2 linked regions of the Homo sapiens genome follow. The protein of the gene in region 2 purifies or fractionates together with the protein of the main gene of each other region. This does not show direct contact. Each region holds a gene or a part of one and is shown on either strand. Other genes may lie near its edges. The genes, in order: GOLGA3 and SPATA6L.

What was found.
Region 1: the proteins of SPATA6L (region 2) and GOLGA3 purify together in Homo sapiens (affinity purification with mass spectrometry; 2 studies listed by BioGRID and IntAct, with this or other methods). This does not show direct contact.

The regions. Positions count from the first base shown.
Region 1 is NC_000012.12:132,818,847-132,822,664, forward strand, and holds part of GOLGA3 (golgin subfamily A member 3), read right to left. Parts: intron 3,466-3,818; 5' UTR 3,283-3,465; coding exon 3,150-3,282; intron 1-3,149. UniProt on the Homo sapiens protein: Golgi auto-antigen; probably involved in maintaining Golgi structure.
Region 2 is NC_000009.12:4,624,800-4,628,617, reverse strand, and holds part of SPATA6L (spermatogenesis associated 6-like protein), read left to right. Parts: intron 1-761; exon of another isoform or gene 762-865; intron 866-1,558; exon of another isoform or gene 1,559-2,132; coding exon of another isoform or gene 2,133-2,192; intron 2,193-3,051; coding exon 3,052-3,291; intron 3,292-3,818.

The sequences.
Region 1 (3,818 bases), on a different chromosome or scaffold from region 2:
AGCCTGCTGGGTAAAGGCCTGGGTTGGACCAGTGACAATTCTATACCCACGTGTTACCTCAGTTCACCCACTAAAATGATTATATACAAATTACCCACAACACAAACTAAAACATATTTCCTCATCAAATGGAACAAAGAAAGATTTCTTTCAATGAAGTGATTTTCAGTCTTTTCCCTGCCCCCTAACTGCTGACTGGTGGGTGGGCCAGTTCACAGTCAAAGAACCAAGACATGTGAGGGGGGAGGGAGGGTCCTCAGGGGGTTCTGGTCCTGGTTCCGGTGGCTCTGGAGGCCCGGCAACACCTCCGTGTCTCACAGGGGTCAGCATTCCTCGGATCCCACGTGCATGCAGGACAGCAAATTTGCTTTTTGCTCAAGCAAATTAAAAATGAGTTTCTTAGCCGGGCGCGGTGGCTCACGCCTGTAATCCCAGCACTTTGGGAAGCTGAGGCAGGTGGATCACGAGGTCAGGAGATCGAGACTATCCTGGCTAACACGGCGAAACCCCGTCTCTACTAAAAATACAAAGACTTAGCTGGGCGTGGTGGCGGGCGCCTATAGTCCCAGCTACTTGGGAGGCTGAGGCAGAAGAATGGCGTGAACCCTCGAAGTGGAGCTTGCAGTAAGCTGAGGTCGTGCCACTGCACTCCAGTCTGGGCAACAGAGCGAGACTCCGTCTCAAAAAAAGAAAAGGTTTCTTTCACTTGCAAATGTGAGTTCAAACTAACAGCAGATACTTACTGTCATGCCTCCCGAAAGAAAAACCAGAATAAAAGCAGGGGTGCCAGACAGGAAGCCAGACCACGGGCACCCGACCAACGCACTGAGACGCCTTTCATGCAAAGGACCCGTGAGCTCCACTGCTGGGAGAGGGGGAACCTTGCATTTCAGATAAAAGTTACTGGGTTAGGCCGGGCGCAGTGGCTCACACCTGTAATCCCAGCACTTTGGGAGGCCGAGGTGGAAGGATAACTCAAGGCCAGGAATTCAAGACCAGCCCGGGCAACAGCAAGACTGTTTATACAAAAAGTTTTTAAAATGAGCCAGGCAACAGGGCGCGGTGGCTCACGCCTGCAATCCCAGCACTTTGGGAGGCCAAGGTGGGGGGATCACCAGAGATTGGGAGTTCAAAACCAGCCTGATCAACATGGAAACTCCATCTCTACTAAAAATACAAAATTAGCTGGGCGTGGTGGCACATGCCTGTAATCCCAGCTACTCAGGAGGCTGAGGCAGAAGATCGCTTGAACCCGGGAGGCGGAGGTTGCCATGAGCCGAGATCGCACCATTGCACTACAGCCTGGACAACAACAGCAAAACTCCGTCTCAAAAAAAAAAAAATCAGCTAGGCGTGCTGACACGCATCGATAGTCACCGCTACCCCAGAGACCAAGGCAGGAGGATCACTTAAGCCCAGGAGTTCATGGCTGCCGTGAGCTATGATTACACCACTGCACTTCAGCCTGCTCAATGGAGCAACACCCTGACTCTAAAAACAGTAATAAAATGTTTAAAATAGAAAAAGGGGCGGAGGCTGAGATTAACCCAGCGTCTTGCTCGAGGGCACATTGCTCCTGAGCAGCAGATCTAAGAGCAGGTTCCACGGCCGCGGGTCTCAGAACTCTTGATCTTGGGCCTCTAAGTTGTTATCTGCCTCACCTGATGCTTATGTAGCAAGGACCAGCAAAGCCATCCTAAGCGCCTGAGTATCATTTTACAGGAATTAGACTGTGACTTCTGCTAGTAAATTAGCACATCTGTAGTCTACAGTTTTAAAGCACTGAACCTCCTGGCCAGGAAGAGGCATGAGAACTGAGTGAATAACTAAGTCACCCTTTCCCTCTGACACGTGAATAACCCAGGGGGCTAACATAACACTGTGCTCCGTAATCCTTAGATCTCTACGGGACGACTTCTGAATTCTAGCTATTACAAATTCAGCAACTGACCAATCAAAAAGGCAGAATTCGGCCAGGCACAGTGGCTCACTCCTGTAATCCCAGCACTTTTTGGGGCTGAGGTGGGTGGATCATTTGAGATCAGGAGTTCGAGACCAGCCTGGCCAACATGGTGAAACCCCGTCTCTACTAAAAATACAAAAAATAGCTGGGTGTGGTGGCAGGTGCCTGTAGTCCCAGCTACTCGGGAGGCTGAAGCAGGAGAATCGCTTGAACCCAGGAGGCAGAGGTTGCAGTGAGCTGAGATGGTGCCACTGCACTCCAGCCTGGGCGACAGAACAGGACACCGTCTCAAAAAAAAAAAAAAAAAAAAAAAATGGCTGGGCGCAGTGGCTCACGCCTGTAATCTCAGCACTTTGGGATGCCAAGGTGGGCGGATCACCTGAGGTTGGGAGTTCGTGGCCAGCCTGACCAACATGGAGAAACCTCATCTCTACTAAAAATACAAAAAATAGCTGGGCGTGGTAGCGCATGCCTGTAATCCCAGCTACTCGGGAGGCTGAGGCAGAAGAATTGCTTGAACCCGGGAAGTGGAGGTTGCAGTGAAACGAGATCTCGCCATTGCACTCCAGCCCGGGCACCCAGAGCAAAACTCCACGTCGAAAAAAAAAAAAGGTAGAATTTTAGGCAGGGAACATGATAAAGACCCATAGATCCCTTCAGGGAAACACTGCTGCTGCCCCACACGTTTAATGGAGTTCTGTTTAGCAGGAATGTGCCTGATCTAAAGGTGGCATCATTCAGTTACTAAAACATACTTTGGGCCGGGCACAGTGGCTCACACCTGTAATCCCAGCACTTTGAGGCTGAGGCTGAGGCGGGCGGATCACGAAGTCAGGAGATCGAGACCATCTTGGCTAACACGGTGAAACCCCGTCTCTACTAAAAATACAAAAAATTAGCCGGGCGCGGTGGCGGGCGCCTGTAATCCCAGCTACTCAGGAGGCTGGGGCAAGAGAATGGCATGAACCCGGGAGGCGGAGCTTGCAGCGAGCCGAGATCACGCCACTGCAGTCCAGCCTGGGCGAAAGAGCGAGACTCCGTCTCAAAAAAAAAAAAAAAAAAAAACAACTTTGAATTAAGTGAAAAGCTCACAGTGGTCTCAACGCCACATCCTCCCTCAACACCACGTCCTCCCTCAACACCAGGTCCTCCTGTGACCAGCACACAGAGGAACCTCACGACTTACACTGGACTTTGTCCTGCTGGTCAGGTGGCACCAGTGGGCCCGGGGGCTTCAGTGGGGCCTCGGGGAGAGACGAGGGGCCACTGTGGGATCTGTCCTCCTGGAGGCCATCTTGCTCGGCCGACGCGCCGTCCATGGTCAGGACGACACCAGCTGAGCTGACGCTGAGGGGCTACAAGTGAACCTTGGACAAGCTTGGCTTCTGCCATCAGCAACAGCCAAGAGCTCCTGGGAGGGGCCCTACTGTGTCTCCCATTTTCAGGAGAAGATCTGATGACTCACAAATGACTTGATGTCAAACCAGCTAATATCATGATACCTGACAGGAGAGAGAGACAAAATGTATTATGAAACTTGTCAGATTTCAAGTATCAATTACAAAATTAGCATTTGGTTCCCAATTTGCATACGTACAAGAAACAAATACAAACTTTTTCATTCAGCAAATAATCCTGGAGCACCCACAACATCCTAGGTTTTGAGGCTAAGATGCTGACCCAGCCACACTGGGCCCTTTCCTGAAGGAGCTTAATGTCTGTATCGGTGCCAACTAAAGAACATTCTGCTGGGACAGCGCAGCTCTGAATCTGTGGAGTAGGTGTCACACAGGGCAACTGAGCTTTAAATTTTATTTAAAATTAATTTGGGCCAGGCGCGGTGGCTCACCCCTGT
Region 2 (3,818 bases):
AAAAGTAGCTGGGCATGGTGGCGTGCGCCTGTAGTCCCAGCTACGGGGGAGGCTGAGGCATGCAAATCGCCTGAGCCTGGGAGGTCAAGGCTGCAGTGAGCCAAGATGGCTCCACTGCACTCCAGCCTGGGTGACAAGAGTGAGACTCCATCTCAGAAAAAAATAATGATAAATAAATAAATAATAAACATAAAATAAAAATTTAGAAATTTTAATTTTTTATGGGTACGTAGTACCTGTATATATTTATGGGGTACATGAGATATTTTGATATAGGCATACAGTATGTAATAATCACATCAAGGTAAATGGTGTATCCATCACCTAAAACATTTATCTTTTGAGTTACAAACAATCCAATTATATTCTTTTAGTTATTTTAAAATTTACAGTTAAATTATTATCGACTATAGTCACCCTGTTGTTCTATCAAATACTAGATCTTATTCATTCTTTGTATTTTTTTTTTGTGCCCTTTAACCATCCCCACTCCCCCTCAGCTCTCATGACCCTTCCCAGCCTCTGGTAACCATCATTCTACTCTCTGTCTCCATGAGTTCAATTGTTTTAATCTTTAGCTCCCACAAATAAGTGAGAATATATAAAGTTTGTCTTTCTGTGCCTGGCTTATTTCACTTGATATAATGGCCTCAACTTCCATCCACGTTGTTGCAAGACATAAAAAATAATGGCTGAATAGCACTCCATTATGTGTATGTAATATAATTTCTTTATCCATTCATCTGTTGATGGACACTTAGGTTGATTCCAAATCTTGGCTATTGTGAATAGTGCTGCAGTAAACATGGGGCCACCTTTCTTTTGCTGAGGCTGATGCTCGGATTGTATTCATGGTCCGTCTTTGGTAAGCGTGAAGCGTCTTAGGGCATCCATGTGTACTACCTCAATTTTACTTGCTTCTTCAGTCCTAGTGTCTGCCTCCCTCACCCCAATTTCTTTCTGTTTTGCTTTTACCTTATTGCATATAATGTTGTTGCCACTTAAAATCCTTTCTAGAACAAGATGGAGAAGGAATAAAGGTAGTTTGTGAAGCTTCTCCAAATACTTTGGGACAGGGTAGAGTAAAACCTGTAAGTGAAACAAAATGCTTATCCCAGATCTCATGTAGGGTCCTAGAAAAGACCTTGAAAATGTGGGCTGTATGTTACAGAATACTTAATGAGAAAGAAGGGCCAATAATCTGTGCAAATCTATCAAAACTCTTAGCTAAATAACTCATATAATGGGAGACCAATGATTAATTTTAAGGAAGGCATTATCTGCTTTTTAGTTTTGCCTTATTTATCCTCTCTTCTCTCCAATTTATTTGTGATGTGTTCATAGCAATTTTTCAGTGTTTCTTTCTCTTCCATTCTACCATCTTAATGCTGTTTTAACTTCCTAGGTCCTTCTTTCAGTGTTAACTTTTTAAACAAATAGTTTTATTGTTTTTTTTCTTGAACTCCTGGCCTCAAGAGATCCTCTGCTTCAGCCTCCCTACGTGTTGGGATTACAGGCATGAGCCACCACACTGTCTGTTTTTTTTTCCCTTAAAACAAAAGTATCACTTTATGTTAGAAAATTAGAAAACAAAGATAAATAAGCAAAAAGGACCCAAAACTTAAAAAAAACTGTCTCATTCTTGCCATTTAGAGATCAGCATTAATTTTTTTAGTATATTCTGTACACACATCACACTTTTAAAAAAGATTGAGATCACGCTGCATTGCATATTATTTTGTACCCTTCTTTTTTTTACTTAATTTATGATAAACATTTTCTCATGTCCTCAGGTACTCTTGTGCCAGACAATTTTTCATGGCTTCATAGTATTCCATTGTATGGAAGTACTGTAATCTGTCTGGCCATTCATTTTCCTTTTGTTGAGCACTTAACTGATATATCAGCCAGGGTCCAGTCAGGAAACCACACCAAACTTGTGACTGTAACAGAAAGATTTAATTTTTAAAAATGGCTAAACAGGGGTTGAAAGAAAGACTGAAAGATAAAAGGGGAACACTGAAATGACAGAGTAACTGCAGGAAGCAGCTTCCACCCCTAGGGCTGGGGAAACAAAGGGAAGATGTTGGTTCAGCAAGAACACAGAAGCTTAAAGAAGAAACTGAACAGAAATGGGACCCAGACCTCTGGAGAAGGGCTGCTTTCCTGGATGCTTCTTCAGGAATTCGAAGGTGGGACTTGGATGAGCTGGAACTCAGATCTCAAAGGAGGGGCACTGCTCACTGCTGGTGCCACAGGAGCTTGGAGGAAGGTTCCTGTGGGTCTAGACTCAAATCTGAACAGGGGGCTCTGGTCAGCTGCCGCTGATATGTCTGGAGGAGTGCAATGGGGCTAGTCCTGGCATAATAGGGGAAAGGCTATAATCTGGAGCCATTTGCAGCTGTTAAGGCGAAGAATGGTTGCAGGAATGATGCTAACAGGAATAGAATGCAAAACTGGAAGTAGCCAGTCACTGTGTCTCCTCCAGCCTTGCACTTTCTCTAGCACCTTCCAGTGGCAGAGCCTACAGAGACCAGGTGGAAAAGCAAAAAAGGGAGTTTGTAGAGTCCCTGGACCAGTATTATATAGCTGAGGTGGATTTGCAACTGAGCGCAATTGCTTACTCACCAATACAGCTGGTTTCTAACTTTTAAACTATCATAAGCATTTTTGTAGCTATACATATAGCCATAGTTATTTCCTTATAATACATTCCTGGAAGTGAAATTGCTAGACCCCTCTATGTGTCAAATTCTCTATTATCTATCTATTGGAGGTGTCTGACACTTTCTAACTTCCCCCTATTATAAATAAATCTCACTGTTAATTAGTTGAATACATTATACTAGCAAGTTATAAATACTACTGATGTTAAACTGAACAGGAAAAAAATTAGAGAAATGTCCTTCTTAAGTTTATGTTTTATAAATCTGAGGTGTGTTATCTTTGACCTTAATTTTTAAAAATTCAATTAAATACAGTTATATTCTGATTGAATTTTCTTCTTTTCTTTCTTTATTTTAAAAAATATTCTTTTTTTGTTTATTTCAGGAAGAAAGACATGAGTCACGGAGGCCTTTATCTACATCACATGAACCAATATTTCCCTTAAATACTATAAAGATGAAACTAAAGGAGAATAATCTCAACAGACTGCCCAAAGGCATGCAAGCCCGGGCGCCCTCTCAATATTCTACCAGGCATTTCTTCCAGGACCAGCCAGCTCAGTTGAACCTTGGAAATAATTTCAAAATCTCTGGAGGAAGCAAGCCTCCATTTGTTGTTAGACACGTGAGCCTAAAATTATTTTTTAGAGCATTTTGCAATAGTGAGGATATGGATGAGGGTGGAAGAAAGGAAGGTTGAGTTATAACAACAAATGAATAATATTCAATAAAAAGGTACTTCAAATTGAATAATAATTGTGATTAAATTATGTTCATTTCCTAGATCGTTGTCAGGAAACCCCTAGAAAGGTACCTTATACAGGGGACTTGCTCAGTAAATGTCAGCCATCCCTATTTTTAATTTTTGAAAATTATTAACAGAGTATAATGCCTACACATGATAACTTGCCATTATCTTGAAGAGTCAATGAACTGACAGAGGTTGCAAATGCATAATGAAGGTTGGCACACACTCTATATCAATCCAAAACTAAAGCTTCATCAGTTTTAAAGAAAACTACATGAGTTTTATTAATGAGATTGGTGCTTAGTGGCCATATATTGAAGAGCCAGAAAAGTTTTATTTGTAGGAAGAAGCAATGTTGTGCGATACTCAAAGCCCTTAATTAAAGTCATCTTAGATTTTGTCCT